Regions from separate parts of the Homo sapiens genome. Here all the other regions are linked to region 3. The links come from fine-mapping of genetic effects on gene expression. A gene starts in region 3. Each other region holds a variant in brackets. All regions are shown on one strand. Distances are from middle to middle.

Region 1 (5,731 bases), 350 kb before region 3:
TAGACAACTAACATACAGCAATGAATTAGTGCCAAGTGTGTGTTACTAATAATAAATTCTGTAGCAGCACCAAAGTCCCTTCTGGATGATATGGGTAGAAAGGGGATCAAGAAAGAGAAGTGTCAAAATACATAGCATGTACAGGATGCAAAACATATACCAGTCTCATTGGTCAGAAAGTCTGCCTGAGAGAAAAGCAGAATGCAAGGCTGAGGCCAATAATGGGGTACCTGTAACCCCAGCAAAATGCAGGCAGCACCCTATAGGGAATGGGGAACTTCCTGATGGCCTTGTTCAAGGAAGTCTTGGGACCAAACAGTACTTTAGTAACCCTCTTAGGTAGCAATCTATTGATGAAGGCCCTGGAAACAAAAGGGATCAGCTACTGCCATCAAGGAAGAAGGGGAAATTGAACTGAGGAGGCTACTAAGGAGCAGAGGGTATTACTGCAATGGGGTTCAGAGCCACGGCTCCCACACTGAGATACCACTGCATACCCACTAGGATGGCTATAAGCGAGAAGTCACATGACATCACATAATATCAAAAAGTCACATACCAGCATTGGCAAGGATGTAGAGGAATTAGAACCTTTCCACACTGCTGGTGAGAGTGTAAAATAAGGCAGCCACTGGGGAAAACAGTTTCATGGTTCCTCAAGAGGTTAAACATACAGTTACCATTCAGCCAGTGATTTCACTCCTGGGCATATACCCAGGAAAAAATGAAAACACATATCCTTGCAAAAACTTGTACATGCGTGTTCATAGCAGCATTATTTATCATAGACAATAAAAGGTGGAAATAGCCTAAATGTCCATCAACTGATGAATGGATAAACAAAATGTGGTATATCCATACAATGGAATATTATTCAATCATACAACAGAATGAAGCACACATACATGGATGTGGATGAACCTTGAAAACACTGTCGTAAGTGGAAGAAGACAGACACATGCAAGACTGCATGATGTATGATTCCATTTACAAGAAATGGGAAGGACAAGCAAATCTATAGAAATGGGAAGTAGGTAAGTGGCTGCTTAGGGCAGGGGGCTAGGGCTGTTCAAGTGTACCAGGTTACCTGTTTTAAAAACCTGATACATAACAGCTGTACATACTCGGGCCTATCTCTCAGCATTCAAGTCAAAATGGATTAAAGATGTAAATGTTAAACCTGAAACTGTGAAACTGCTGGAAGAAAACATTGGGGAAATGCTTCAGGACACTGGTCTGGGCAAAGATTTTTGAGTAAGACCTCAGAGTCAGGCAACCAAAGCAAAAACAGACAAACACAAGCTTTCTCCTAGAGGTGATGAAAATGTTCCTTAATTTAGTGTGATGATGGCTGTTCATATCTGTGACTATATTAAAAACCACTGAACTGTACATCTAAGTGGCTGAGTTATTTAGTATATGGACTGTAACTCAACAAAACTGTTATTGAAAAAAAAAAAAGCTCACTTGAAGTCAGGAGTTTGAGACCAACCTGAGAAACACAGCAAGACCCTTATCCCTACCAAATAATAATAATAATAATAATGAGCCATTTGTGGTGGCATGAGCCTGTAGCCACAGCTATTCGGGAGGCTGAGGTGGGAGGATCACTTGAGCCTAGGAGTTCGAGGTACAGATTGCATCACTGCACTCCAGCCTGGATGACAGAGTAAGACTCTGTGTCAGGAAAAAAAAAAAAAAAAAAAGCTAAAGCTCCCACAGCTCAGACCAGTCAGAGCTGAGGCCTCTCTGCCCAGTCCAGCACTACGTTCAGCCTTGGGACATGGCATCTAACCTTCCTCCCACAGGGTTTTTATGAGGCTATAATAAGACAAGTTGCATGAAGTTCTTAGCAGAGGCTGTCGTAGCACAGGGATTGCTGAAGGCTGAATGAAAAGTTAGACTCAAAAGAAGCAAGCATCAGGAAGTAAGAACTGGAGAATGGTTAAAGGGGACGAGGATGAGGAGAAATGCACATGGTTCTGAGGTTTCACACCTGAGGGGTGGGCACGATGAGCCATCATCAGCAAACGTCCCAGAGTTGCCTTCCTGTGTAAGGGAAGAGGCCACGTGTGAGATGAGTGGACGACCTGAGGGAAGGTGAGAGTTTCACACGGAGATCCCAAGGTCCATAAAGATGAACCTATTTTCTTTGCCAACTCTGAAAATTTGTCCCATAGAAGTATACATTTATCAGAGGTCATGTGGCCAGGCGCAGTGGCTCATGCCTGTAATCCCAGCACTTTGGGAGGCCGAGGCAGGCGGATCACAAGGTCAGGAGATTGAGACCATCCTGGTGAACACGGTGAAACCCCGTCTCTACTAAAAATATAAAAAATTAGCCTGGCATGGTGGTGGGCACCTGTAGTCCCAGCTACAGGCTGAGGCAGGAGAATGGCATGAACCTGGGAGGTGGAGCTTGCAGTGAGCCGAGATTGCACCACTGCAGTCCAGCCTGGGCGACAGAGTGAGATTCCTTCTCAAAAAAAAAAAAAAAAAAGAAAAAGTATACATTTATCGGAGGTCATGTGCAGATAACAGAAATCATGCTGGGTATTTTAACTAGAAGGTAACTTTATACAAGAATTCGGAGCTTATAAAATCAGGAGAGAGACTTGAAGAATAGCCTCTGAGCTGTGCCTCCAGGATGACCCCCAAGACCCAGACACCAGCACAGAGGGGATGCTACATGAGGAAACCTGTCCTCATACCACTGTCTCCAAGCACAGGACACAGGAGCCACCAGAGGCCCCACCAGAGCCCCATCCTTACATTGCCTCCAAGCATGGGCTACAGGGGCCACCATGGGGGCCCCACAGCGATGCCAGCTCTGGGCACAGCTCGCCTGCCAGTCAGGCCAGCAAGCTGATGTCTGGACCACACCATCCCTCTACCCACTTAATTCTGCTCTGTGTTCAAGTCTTACATAAGTGATTCTGACAGGCTAGTCATTTTCAGAACCCTTGCTGCCAGGGGATGATTTTTCAGCTTTCTAGTATCAGCAGGACAGGAAAAGACACAGACGGGAGATTGGAATGGATGTTAAATGATTGAATCTACCTTATCTGCCATCTCATCTCAAAATAACAACAGCTTAATTTTAGTGAGGTGAGTAACAAATGTTCTGGGAATGCTTGCTGCAAGTATCTATCTATCTTATCTATCTCCATCATCCATCCATCCATCCATCCATCCATCCACCCATCCAC[C/G]CATCCACCCATCCACCCATCCACCCACCCAACCTTTCAATTTAAGAAGCAATGTTCATGTCAGCCTCAGAACTGCTAAGCCAGCTTCTCTTACTAACTGCCACATAGACCCAGCAAGACAGTAGCATCCTTAGAAAAACCAATCTTGCCAAAGCAACAAATTGTTTTTCTTTCTCCTCTGTGAATCAATCAATTAAAACAAGCAATCCCCAAAGGAGAATGAGTAGACAGCACAGGGCTGTAATGTTGTGGAACTGCTTTATTTTCAAAGAAATGAAATAGCAAGACATTCAAAATTAAAGCATAGAGCCGGATCACGGAAGTTTCCGACACGGAGATGGATTCACAGGATCTAAGTGCTCACCTGGGAAAGTCCAGGAAGAAAAGCACTCCCAGAAACTGACCTGTAAGTTTTTCACAGTAGGTCTAATTTAGAGGTGCAGAACAAGGCAAGTCTTCTGAAACCCCGAAACATGCAGAAAATGCCACTGGTGTCCCCACATGCACGCGTATGTTCTTACACATCAACAGGGGCCCATTCCCTTCCACTCCTGCCATTTTTGTACCAACTTGTCTACCTAGTTCTAATCAATGCAAAGAGCCAACCAATTACAACAGAAGAAACGCCTCTAAGTTTCATCTATCACTAAATAAACAGTACGTGTTTGTAAGCCTTTACTTCTAACTAACCTTAGTAAAATCAATGTAAAACAATTTACTGGTGTTTTAATCTTTCTTATTTGGGGCTAAAAAAATCTAATTTCCTTTCTGTGATTCACACTCTGTCTCAGGGGGTGCTCTTGGAGGATGTTTCCTAGATTGGAGCTGGCTCTTTAGCATTCTGTTTTTCAGTACAGTCCCAACTTCTGCACCTCATCAAGTAAAAACAAACAACCCTCTCCCTGGATACTTCTCTAGACACAATAGAATGGCAGCAAAATAACAGCCTACTGGCTCTCAGTGTTGTATACCAGTATGCCAGTGAGCACTCATAACCCAAACCAAAATGATACACACGTAAGAATGAACCAAGAGACTCAGAATACCAGGGCAATAAAACGGGAAAAAAAATGAATAGCAAACGAAAAACTCTACTAATTTATATGTCATTTAAATTTTTTCTGACCCCGAGTCTCTGTGATATTAAGATGTTGCTTAATGAAGTTTTAGATTTGAGGCTTCCTCCAATTCAAGGAACTTACGTAAATCTGTTTTGAAAGATTTACTCTATTTTATTACGACAAAATAAATGACAAATTGATCTTAACCTAATTTTCCCAATGTTATTATCCTACTCTAAAAGGCCACCACGCCACACAAATTAAAATCTGATCACCTGCCCAGTGCCAACATCAAGGGAATAAATGCTGGGGTGCATGGGACATAATTTTGAAACAGGCAACACACACCATGCCCAGACCCTTCCTGCCATCTGCTTCACTGAAACCCTGGGGACTTGCATAGGAGATTGTTTCCTTTTCCTTATAAGCCTGGACTTTAAAGCACTATCATAAAAAACACATAATGTAGTAAGAGGAAGGAAATTAAAATGCCATCGATAAGCGAGGTTAACTTCAATCTTCAATCCAATCTGTGTGCATTAGGTACATGCCAGACCACAGGAACTGCACAACCAAGCACATACTACAAGACCAGCAGCAGCTATACTGAGGGAGGCATTCAGATGAGGGTTGATCTCTCGAAAAGGAAACATATCCACCAAAGGACAGCCATTCATTATACACAGTCGGTGAGATTATAAGAAAGTGGTTTTGGTCTATTTTTTCCCTTCAAAATTTCTTCATTAAACATTTAGTTAGAATTGTTGTATATTTCTTCATTCAATCTTTAGATGCTTTTTGAAAAGAAGAGCTCAACAAAGTAAAAGAAGTACATTAAAGTAGCACATGGCACCACCACTTACCCAGTTTCATAGTTTTGTGATCTAGGGTAAGTGACTTGACCTCCCCTAAGCTTTGGTTTTGTCTGCTGCTGCTGGTAGTGGTAGTGCCTACCTTGGTGTTTTTTTTTTTTTTTTTTAGTTTTTTCAGGATCATATGGAATAATGCCTGGACAGAGCTCAATAGAGAGCCTAACCCATTCTCAGCACTCAATGGCTATCATAACTACCAAAATCCCAAATCCCTGATCCCATTCTCAATAGCTCCTTCTTCCTTACTATTACCTTTCATATGTGACTACAAATCCTCCCAATTTTACATCTAGACCACCCTCAAATCTCTTCATTTCTCTTCACCTCTGTAATCCATGCTACCATAATCTGATGAATGAATGAACGAATGAACAAGCGGCCATTCTTTCAGACAGTCACTCTGGCAATGCTGCCAGCAGGTGGATATGCACATTAAGTGAAGACTCACTGGTGATAGTGGCATGTATAGGCAGCAATGATTAAAGTCACCTTTCTTTCCAGAAAGAGTATTTTCCTAACTCCACTCTAGCCAACCTGCCTCTGAGTCGGTATGTTTGGCCCTTTGAAATTAAAGGAAAAAACTAAATAA
Region 2 (5,731 bases), 630 kb before region 3:
TGTATAGCTGTATCAAAACATAACTTTGTACCCCAGAGGCTTATAAATTACAGTTTGTTAATTAATATTAATAAAAAGCATAAATATAAGAGCTAGAACAATATAAATCTTAGAGGAAAATACAGGGGCAAATCTTTATGACCTTGGCTTTGGCAATGGCCAAATGCAAGTAACAAAATAAAAGACAGATAAATGGGACTTCATGGAAATTAAAAACTTTTGTGCATCAAAGGTCATTATCAAGGAAATGAAAAGACAACTACAAAATGGGAGAAAATATTTGCAAATCATATCTGATAAAGGTCTAGTATCCAGAATATATAAAGAACACCTACAACTCAAAAGCAAAAAAACAAACAACTTGATTAAAAAATGGGCAAAGGACTTCAATAGACCCTTATTCAAAGAAAATACACAATAGCCAAAAAGCACATGAAGATAATCAGTATCATTAGTCATTAGGGAAATGCAAATCAAAACTACCATGAGATAGCACTTCACACATACTAGGATGGCTATTAAAAAAACCCCAAAACCAAAATAACTCAGAAAATAAGTGTTGGAGAGGATATGGAGAAACTGGAACTCTTGCACATTACTTGGTGAGATGTAAAATGGTGCAGCCACTGTTCCTTGGTAAGTTAGACACAGAATTATCTCATCACTCACCAATTCCATTCCTAAGAATATACCCAAATGAATGGAAAATGGACTCAGACAGATACCAGTACAATATCCCTAGCTGCGTTATTCACAAAAGCCAAAAGTAGAAACGACCCAAATGTCCACCAACTGACAAATGTGTAAGCAAATGTGGTCTATGCATACAATGGAGAATTATTCAGCCATATAAAGAAATATGGTACAGATGGATACATACTTCAGGGATAAAGACTGAAAATATTATGCTAAGTGAAAGAAGCCCAACCTCAAAGGCTGTGTATTACATGATTATATGAAATGTCCAAAATAGGCAAATATGTAAAGACTGAAAACAGGCTCGTGTTTGCCAGGGGCTGTAGGGCAGGGAGGTGGGGGAAAGGAAGTGGGAAGGACTGCGTCACACATATGGGGTTCCCTTTTGGGGAGATGAAAATATTCTGGAACTAGGTAGTGGTAATGGTTATACAACACTGTGACTCTACCAACTGCCATGTATGGCAAACTATAAAATAGTAAATGTTATGCTATGTGCATTTTATCACATTTTTTTGAGAAAGAAAATTGAATTAAAAAAAGGTGGATTGGGTGCCAAATCAAGGTCAGTTCCCTCCTATCACATGAGCTGTTGGTAATGATGCCATTTTTACAGTTTATTTTTCCCATGGTGGGGGGTATTGGCATTAAAGTACTTAATTTTTTTTTTTTTTTTTTTGGCTCTGTACTGGCAGAAGCAGGTATGCTAGCTGGGAACTATTGCTATGAAAGGTGTTGTGTAGACATTACTTCACCCAGAGATATGTGCAGTCTTAGTGCCTCCCCAGTAATGATGGTGAAACCCAAGCTCATACAAGTCCTTACAAAAGGCTCTTTTTAGAAGCTGACAAATCCTAGAGAAGGTGTTATGCTCCTGCCTCAAAAAATGATCAGTCTCAGGAAGAAGTGGAGAGCTGAGTTATGATGGAGAAAAATAAACTCTTGTGTCCACATTTCTGTTAGAAAGCTATTCCTGCAAAAATCACACATGCATAACTGCCAAAGAGCGGGAGTGTGGAGTACACAGCAAATAACTCCAAATCTGAATTTTAGATCTTGTCAATAGTTACAACTGACCGGAATCACAGCTGACACTACAACAAAGCCAAAAACAAGTAGGTAATTTTAGAAACTTATTTTTAAATTAGCTACTGGGCAGTCTGCAAAACACAGATGTGACAGGCCCTCAAGAAAAAAAGCTGGTCCCCAGTTCCCTGTCCTTCAGGGAAGGCCAAACATCTACCAATCCACCAGGCTGTTAACATTCTAACCTGCTTTATTAGAGAATGATATTTCATAGCCACAATTGGCAACTTATTTTACTCATTATCATTAGGAAATGAAAACCTTCGGGGCTCAAGTGTATTCCAGACCTACCTAGACCTTTGTTTTATCTAAAACTTTACCTTAGTTAAAGACACTTATGTAATGAAGGAAAATCACAAGAATAAAACAAAAACAAAATCGGTTTTCCAGCCTAAAACTTCAATAAGAGTTATATTTATTTTATATACCACGGAACTACGAGCCCTCCAGAAATTCCATTCTGTTAGATGGTAGTAGATGATTCTCCTTTCCCCTTTCTGCCAATCCATATGCATCTTCTTTTTAAAAACATGACCTCTTGACCTCCCATTAATTCAGCATTTGTACTGCGCCTACTGTGTGTGAGACCCAATGTTGGAAACAAAGTTACCCAAGACACAGCCTCTGCCCTCATGAACTCACAGTCTTTAAGGTGACCTCGCCGTGCAGACACTTACCATGCTATAAGGTGATGATGCCCTTACAGAGATTGTGCTAGGCTCAGGAGAGGTGACGTGGAGGAGTGAAGAACTTGGAGCAGGGCAGAGAGAATCAGCACTGAAGCTGGGTCCTGAACAATGGATGGCCCTTTGCTGACCATCCAGATGCAAACACAGGAGGAGAAAAAGGTTCAGCAGGAACAGCAATGAATCCAGTTTCAGATGTGGGGCCTGTGAGCGCCTCTGAGGTGTTCAGAAGACAGGGGACCAGAGAGAGGTCAAAGCTGAGATGCAACTTTGGACTCAGCTTGTAGAAACCCATGGAGAGCTGGTAGACTGAGAAGCAGCACTGTGCCTAGTGATCCCTGGAAAACACCAGCACACCATCTGTGTGTTCAACTAGAGGGTTCATTCAGCCGGAACCAAGTCTTACACTTTTTGTTATGTTTTTCACAGTACCTATCCTGGGCTGAAAACAGAGGACACGGTTCAATATGTAAAATTGCATGTGTGCTTTGTATTAACTGATTTGTGGTGCGACTCTCTTCTTATGTTGTGTCTCCACAACTCAATCCTTCACCATTTGTCTCGTGTCTATCCATAACGCCCAGCATTGAGCTCAGGACACAGTAGGTTTTCCAATAGTGGCCAAGGTAAATTCCTCTGTATTATTCTTTTAAAATGCCAGAATATGGACATTGTCCCTATTCTCTTCC[A/G]GAGAGAAAAGCTCACTCCAAATTCCAGAAGATATTGTGAGCAGTGTTTGTGGATTTATAGAGATGAAACATTGTAATTTTTTAAGAATTCAGGTTACATGGGACAGTTTGGGGGACATTCTGGCTGAAGACACCATAGGGTTCAAGGTTAACTAACCCTAATACAAATTCCGTTCCAAAAATAAACAACAGATTCCTCCAGTCCTCCCTGGACCCAACTTTCCTCTAATAATAAAAACTGGGCACTGGAGAGAAGAGAGGCTTGTAGCAGCACAGTGCTTGATTTCCTCTGTCCCAGACAAGGTTTTCCCAGTAGAGGCAGAGGACGATTCTGAATGTCCACAGGCATGAACAAAGAAGCCTACCTAGCAAATGCCTTTTCTCTCCAGACAAAGGAACAGGAAAGGGGCAGCCTAGCAAGACAGAAAACTTTCAGGCCTGAAGTACTCATCTGCAGCCAGATACCCCAGAGAAAAAGGTGGCCCCCTCACCCCCAACCCATGCCAGCAAAGACCTAGTGGTGCTCTTAGACTTCTTCCCTTAGGAGACTGTTATGAGGCTCTCCAACACCCTTATGGGGAGGTGAAAAAGAAGACCAAGCAGGGATCCTTGACTTTCATCCCTGCCAGCCAATAAGGACCCCTCCCTTCTGGGATGTCAGCAGAGATCACTTCGGATGACTAGACTTCCATCCCCAACCCAGTGAAATGTGAAGGCATCCTTTTCCCTCTTCACTGGGTGATGTCAGAAAAGGTCTTATGGAGAATCAGGACCCCTGCACCTGGAGAGCAGGAGCTCCCATCCCTACCCTGAAGACATAAACAGAGGCCATTAGTGAATCTGGATTACCTCTACCCGGCAGGAGCCAGGCTGCCATGAAATCCAGAGTCCATAGCATAATAGCCAAAATGTCCAGGTTTCATTTGAAAATCACTTATTTTACCATAAACCAGGAAGATCTCAAACAGGGAGAAAAATAAAAATGATCAATAGATGCTAACACCAAGACGTCAGAAACAGTGGAATTGTCTGACAAAGATTTTAAAGTAGCCATGGTAAAAATGTTTCAATAAGTAATTATGAACACACTTAAAAGAAAAAAAATAGAAAGCCGCAGCCAAGAAATATAAGACTTAAAAGAACAAATAGGAAATTTCAGAACGGAAAAATATAACAACTGAAATAAAAACCTCAGTGGATGGGCTCAACAGCAGAATGCAGGGGACAGAGGAAATCGTTAGTGAACTGAAAAATAGAACAGTAGAAATTACCCAGTCTGAGTAATAGAGACAAAATAGACTATAAAAATTAACAGAGCCTTGGGAGCCTGTAAGAATATAATAGAAGATCTAACATTCACGTCTTCAGAGTCTCAGAAAAAGAGGAGAAATACGGCAGGGCTAAAAGAGCACTCAGAAATAGTGGCTGAAAATGTCCCAATTTTGATGAACAATATAAACTTACAGAGCAATTCTAAAGAGGATAAACTCAAAGAAATCCACAACAAGACAGATTTTAATTACACTGCCAAAAACCAACGACAAAGATTCCAAAGGCAGCCAAAGAGAAATGACACCAATAGAGGAAAACCACGTAGGTTGACAGTGGATTTCTCATCAGAAACCACTGAGGCCAGAGCAACTGGCACAACATTTTTCAGGTGCTGAAAGAACAGAACTGTCAACCCAGTGAAAATATCTTTCAGGAATGAAAAAGAAATCTCTTGAATGGAAGGAAAACTAAGAAAATTTGTCACCACCAGAACGATCTTACAGGAATAGCTAAAGAAAGTCCTATAAGGTGGGGGCACGGTGGCTCACACCTGTAATCCCAGCACTTTGGGAGGCCAAGGCAGGAGGATCACTTGAGGTCAGGAGTTCAAGAACAGTCTGGCCAACATGGTGAAACCCTGTCTCTACTAAAAATACAAAGATGGGCTGGGCATGGTGGCTCACGCCTGTAATCCCAGCATTTTGGGAGGCCGAGGTGGGAGGATCATCTGAGGTCAGGAGTTCGAGACCAGCCTGGCTAATGTGGTGAAACCTTGTCTCTACTAAAAATACAAAAATTAGCCAGGTGTGTTGGCAGGTGCCTATAATCCCAGCTACTTGGGAGGCTGAGGCAGAAGAAATGCTTGAACCCAGGAGGTAGAGGTTGCGGTGAGCTGAGATTGTGCCACTGCACTCCAGCCTGGGCAACAGAGTGAGACTCCGTCTCAAAAAAAAATTAGCCAGGCATGGTGGTGCACACCTGTAATACCAGCTACTTAGGAGGCTGAGGCAGGAGAATTGCTTGAACGCCAGAGTGCGGAGGTTGCAGTGAGCTGAGATCACACCGCCACACTCTAGCCTGGGCAACAGAGTAAGACTCCATCTCAAAAAATAAAAAATAATAATAAGAAAGTTCTATAAACAAAAAGGAAATGATAAAAGAAGAAATCTTGGAACATAAAAAAGAAAGAATATAGTAAGCAAAATATGAGTAAATACAAGAAGCTTTTCTTTTGCTCTTGATTTCTCCAAATTATGTTTGATGAGTTAAAGTGAAAATTATACATGGTCTGATATGGTTTTA
Region 3 (5,731 bases):
AGAAAATATTCCAGAATTATTTTTAAAAATAGTATACAGCTCAGCATATACTCTTGAAGCTGACTGTGATCTGCAATCCTTTCATCATTAGTTTATTTTTTAATAATGAGAAGTAGCAGACTTCACTAAAAATCACACATCTTTGTTTAGTATTTTTATGGGAGTACACGATTGTCAGGCCCTCTGCCCCTGTTTCCATCAGTGTCCCCAGGAGCCCACACTATGCAGATCCTCTTTCTTCTCCATACATTATGCAAATACCCTAAACAGGCCCCATCTCAGAGCCTCCACTCTGTCTCCTGGAACTTTCAGCCTATCATCAGCAAGATCCCTCACAACCCGACCCCTCTGACTATTCCTGAAACTTCTTGCCTTAACTGCTCTGCCAGGAGGACCCTGCTTCTCACGGTTACTCTCAGATCACTGCCTTCCCCCCTGCTCCCTAAAAGCTTCCTGCGTTGATGTTCATGCCGTCAGACTGTAGAACAGTCTCAAAACAAAGCGACCTCTCTTGAACTCACATTTTCCTCCAGCTACCACTCGATCTGCTTCTCCCCCTGCCTTTTCTGCAATATTCACTCAAAAGAGTTTTCCGGACTTGCTGTTTCCAGTTCCTGTCCTGTTACTCTTACACCTGCTCTATTAGGCGTTCTTCCCCACAATGATATGTTAACAGCTCTTTTCAAGATCACCAGTGACCTCCACTTACATGACAGTTCTCCAGCCTCATCTTTATTGAGCTCAGCAGCACTGGGCACAGGTACACCCCACCCCTTCCTGAACATCTCCACACTGAGTTTCAGAGCACTCCCTCCGGGTTTCCGGGGACCTCCCTGGCCATCCTCTCAGGCCCCTTCTGTTGACCCTCATCTCCCTAACCTCAAAATGTTAGAGTGCCCAGGACTCTATCCAAGGACCCCTCTTTTCTAAGTCACATCTGTACACATTGACAGCTGATCACATAATTCTTAGGGGCCCGTGTAAAATGAAAAGGTGGGCCCCTTGTTCAAAAATTAAGACTTTCAAGACAGCAACACTGGGCAGAACATCCAAGCAAGTGCTGACTCTTGTAAGAGCCAGACTCTGAGCAGCTGCAGGGCATACACTCTTGGAGCCGGTCCTGCCGACGACTCTTGAATCTCTATGTCTGGCCTTGCACACTCCCCGGAGCCCCAGACTCATAAATCCAGCTCTCTACTAATCATCTCCTCTTGGATCTATGGTAGGCATTTCAGACCAAATTCTTCACACCCTCCCTTACCGCAAAAGAGAACCCTGGTCCTCCGCAGTTTCCCCATCTCAGCAAGGGGTGCATTCTTCCGGTGTCTCAGACCAAAACCCTTGGGGGCATCTTTGATTCTTTTCTTGTACTGAAGCCCCACATCCAAATCATAAGCAAATGCCTTTGGCCCCACCTGCAAAGGTACAGAGGGTGTCCCCAGGTCTCCTCAGGCTGCCTCCACCTTGGGAAATTCTCACACCTGTATGACTGCGCCCTCCCACTGTCTCTCTGCCACAGCTCTTCCCTGCTATTTAGTCTTGACCCTGCACCCCGTGACCCCTTCAGGCTGGGATTCTCCTCAAAATGAATGTGAAAGTGTCCTGACTTTACCCAAGTTTAACAAACATTGGCTTAAATTACCTGATAAGCTTGCTTCCCTCTCACGTTACTCAACTACAGAAATACAAAAGTCGCTTATTTTTATGTGCCTATTTTCTCAAAACAAATAAAAAAGCACGAAGACAAGTGACCCCAGCTCCAAACTGTACACCCTCTACCTTCCTCATGTCAAAGATCTACCTGCAAACTTGCCGCAGTCCTGAAACGGTAAGAAATCATTTTTGGGGCTCCTCTTTACGTCTGCATTAACTAATGGTCTAGGTAACCCTATCAAGTGTCATAGCCACATAACATCCAGCTCCACGACATCATAGTTTCTAAATGTGTTCTATAATCATAGAACGCGGGCCTCTAACAGTGTGAGTGGTCGGGTATGGTACATGCGTGTTTGGCTTTAGGTTTCGAGTTCCAACACCCAGGCGCCTGCAGGCAGGGTATGTGTACGCGTGCGTGTGTACGTGTGTGTGTACCTGTGTGTGTGTGTGCGCGCGCGTGTGCGTGTGTGTGTTCGTCTCCAGATGGTTGTATGCACGGATGGTTATGAGCCAGTACGTCGCCGCTGTGAGCGCGCGAGGACCCGGGGCTCCAAGTGGTGAGAATCACTCGAGGGACCCTTCGGATGCCTTTTTCCCCCTCTGCTTTTGAGCTCTGCAGCACAGCGGTGCCGGCCGCCGGCAGGGAAGGCTGCATCTTCTCTGCGCCGCCAAACCGTGCCCACCATCGCGGTGACTGCCGCCTAGGTCGCATCCCTGAGCCGCATCCGCGCGTAGGGGCGCACGGGCACGCGCACAGGGAGGCCGCACACACACACACACATCTGTACAGGGACGAGCCGGGGGTCTCTGACGCCCGCCGCTCACCTCGCCCCGGCCTGGAGCCTTTTGGCCCCGCAGGTGCAGCGACGCCCAGCCCCCGTGCGGCCAGCGCGCCGCGTCGGCGGATCCTGCAGCCCAGAGAGCCCAGGGAGCCCAGGGAGGGGAGCGGGGCGCGGGCGGGGCAGTGTCGCATAACCGCAGGCGCGCCCCGCGCCGCCCCCGCCCCGGGCCCACCCTCCCTCGCCGCGCCCCTCCCAGCTCACCCACGGACGAGCGGATCCTCGACCTCCGCGGCAGGGACATCTTAAGAGCTTTGTCCAGGCCTGCGCCGTTCAGCATCTCGCCCGTGTCGGGGGCTCGGCGGCCCCGGGCGAGAGACGGAGGCTACGCGCAGGGCTGGGCGCAGGGGCCGCCGCCCGAGGACCATGGGTGGGCCAGCGCCTCGCCGGGCTGCTAGCTGGCGGGGACCGCCGGCGCCTGTGCCGGGCCGCGCCCGAGGCTGCGCCGTCCGTGCCGCAGCGGCCAATGCGGCAGCATCCGCGAACGCCACCGCGGCGGGCCCCGCTGGCCCGGGCTGCGGCGTGGGGGCGGGGGACCGGCCCTGAGCGGAGCCCCGCGGGAGGAGGAGCGGACGGGAGGCTGGGAGGGATCCGCAATATTACGCAGGACCGGGGCTTTTAGGTGTCGGGGAAGGCGATGGGGAGGGCTTGGTGGGGTGGGAGATTGGGCCTGTACTTTCGGGGGCTCTTCCAGGAGAGGGGTGCACCTGGGGGACTCGGAGTCTCTGCCTGTCTGCTACCTATTTACCTGCCTGTCACTTGTCCTGTGCAAGTGGAGGCGCTGTGATTCCCCAGGACTCATCCAGTCCCTTTCTTTTCGCAGTTTCTGTTCTTCCGTGCCCAGCCTGGTGGGATCTGTGTAGGGACTTCGTGGAAGGGTTATTTCCAAGGTGTCTGATGTGTGGCTTGGCACTCAGAGAAGTCGGGGGTCTCCAGCCCCCCACTCTCCACAACCTGCCTGACATTCTAACTACGCATATTAAAGCTGCAGGTAGCCCTAGGGAACCTTAACAGCAACCTTCTCAACCCCCGCACGCACACACACACACACACACACCCATCGACACACACACACACACACACAGACCCATCGACACACACACACACACACCCATCGACACACACACACACACACCTTCTTTCATAAAACAAAACCATCGAGAGGTAAGATGACTTGTCCAAGGTCACTTGATCTATTTTTTGTTTTTTCTTATCGCGTAATGTTTAGACTGTGCTTGGTCTTTCTGGGCACAATCCCATGAAGATAAGAAGCTATCTTTATTGTGCCTGATGACATTCTGACCTCGGAGTAAAAACGGAACAAAACAAAAATAAAACTGTTCAGGTGAAAGTCTGACCTTGCTTTTACTGATGCGAGCATTACATTTCTTTTAACCTAAATTAACATTAGGGACTGACAAGGAGTAGTACAGAGTTCAGCAAAAAGAATCTGTGCTAGCAAAGACAGCAGTGCGGCCTGAGCTCCTCCTGCCTGGCCTCTGCATCTGATTTTATTTTCTTTTACTTTTTTTTTTTCTTTGACAGAGTTTTGCTCTTGTTGCCCAGGCTGGAGTGCAATGGCGCTATCTCGGCCCACTGCAACCTCCGTCGCCCGGGTTCAAGTGATTCTTGTGTCTCAGCCTCCCGAGTAGCTGGGATTACAGGCGCCCACCACCACGCCCAGCTAATTTTTGTATTTTTAGTAGAGACGGGGTTTCACTAAGTTGGCCAAGCTGGTCTCGAACTCCTGACCTCAGGCGATCCACCTGCCTCGGCCTCCCAAAGTGCTGGGATTACAAGCGTGAGCCACCACCCCCGGCCTCTGCTTCTAATTTTCTTAAGAACAAACATCCAGGCCGCGCGTGGTGGCTCACGCCTGTAATCCCAGCACTTTGGGAGGCAAAGGCGGTCAGATCATGAGGTCAGGAGATGGAGACCATCCTGGCTACCGCGGTGAAACCCCGTCTCTACTAAAAATACAAAAAAAAAATCGCCGGGTGTGGTGGCAGGTGCCTGTAGTCCCAGCTACTCGGGAGGCTGAGGCAGGAGAATCGCTTGAACCCAGGAGGTGGAGGTTGCAGTGAGCGGAAATCATGTCACTGCACTCCAGCCTGGGTGCCAGAGTAAGACTCCACCAAAAACAAAACAAGACAAAACAAAAAACAACATCCAAAGGGACAGGCAACTTACACTGAAAACTGCAGGCTGGCAAGAATCTACACTAAATGTAGCTTCAGGTAGGATTCTTTACCTGTCTCTTCTGGGCCCTCAAAAAATTTTTCTGATAAGAAATGAATCTTTATCAGGAAGATGAATCAAAATAAAATTTTCTAAATTGTTGAGCTAAGCTTCAGAGTGGGAGAGGTTTTCTCAGTGGATCTTCATTGCTGCTGAGGATAAATCTTAAAGCTGGGGCTAATCCTAGGACTGGATTTGTCAAAAACTTGTCACTATGCTTCAGTAAATCTTCTGTCTATGATAACACCTTGAGGACCTAACCAGAATTGAAAGGAACTTAAAAGGAAAATGTGGTTTTTTTCAATCCCCAAACTTCAAGATAAATAGAAAACATTTTGGGTTTTTTTGCTCTGACTTAGGTGGGAATAGAAAGAGTAGATAAAGGTTATTTTTAATTTTTAAGAAGCAGAGTATGTTATATATAGAATATTTGCCTTGATCACTGAAGAGTGACCAAATGTCCCACCCTGACTTTGTGCAGCCCCATCATGAAACAGAGTTGTTGCTGCTCTTTCTATGTTTATCTTCCAATAACCAAACTGCCCTGACAGCTTTGTAGGTGTGTGAAATATACCTCAGTTGGTGCACCTTGAAGATCACAGCATAGACTGCAAGGAGCAGTAGGTGAATATTTCACAGCAACTTGTGTTGTCTCTTTGATGTCTTGGTTAATTCCCCTGATCTGACTGCCTCTTGGAATGTTGGGGAGATCAGTAGGTTGGCATTGGCCAGAGTCAGACCTAAATCCCATCTCTGAGGTCTTCAAGGGAAATATATGCACAAAGGACAAAAGCTAGCAAATGGACAGTATTTATTATTATGCTTAGAATCCAGTGCCGATGTGGATCACCCTGTGACCCAGGCTTGGCTTGGAGACATCCTTTCACCCTTGCCAGAGGCAGCCTAGGTTAGAACCAAAGGAGATAAAGAAGCCTGTGAGGAGAAACAGCAAACGCAAAAGGCACCGCAACCAGGACAGTCAGGGAAATGTGCTCTGT

The links. PIP is the estimated chance that this variant, and not a neighbour inherited with it, causes the effect.
Region 1: its variant is the best candidate, but not a certain one, in a credible set for the expression of ATP8A2 in whole blood (TOPMed, PIP 0.62).
Region 2: its variant is the best candidate, but not a certain one, in a credible set for the expression of ATP8A2 in nasal epithelium (TOPMed, PIP 0.71).

Annotation. Positions count from the first base shown.
Region 1 is chr13:25,716,937-25,722,667 of GRCh38, reverse strand. The region is part of intron 25 of ATP8A2 (ATPase phospholipid transporting 8A2); the gene reads right to left. Among named protein-coding and RNA genes, the nearest start is that of SHISA2, 330 kb to the left of the region's middle. The variant C/G (reference allele first, on the strand shown) is at 3,210.
Region 2 is chr13:25,996,345-26,002,075 of GRCh38, reverse strand. All of the region lies in intron 35 of ATP8A2 (ATPase phospholipid transporting 8A2), which reads right to left. Among named protein-coding and RNA genes, the nearest start is that of SHISA2, 53 kb to the left of the region's middle. The variant A/G (reference allele first, on the strand shown) is at 3,158.
Region 3 is chr13:25,369,257-25,374,987 of GRCh38, reverse strand. It overlaps ATP8A2 (ATPase phospholipid transporting 8A2), which reads right to left and starts at 3,014. Exons shown (of 37, transcript NM_016529.6): 1 at 2,700-3,014. The coding sequence starts at 2,775.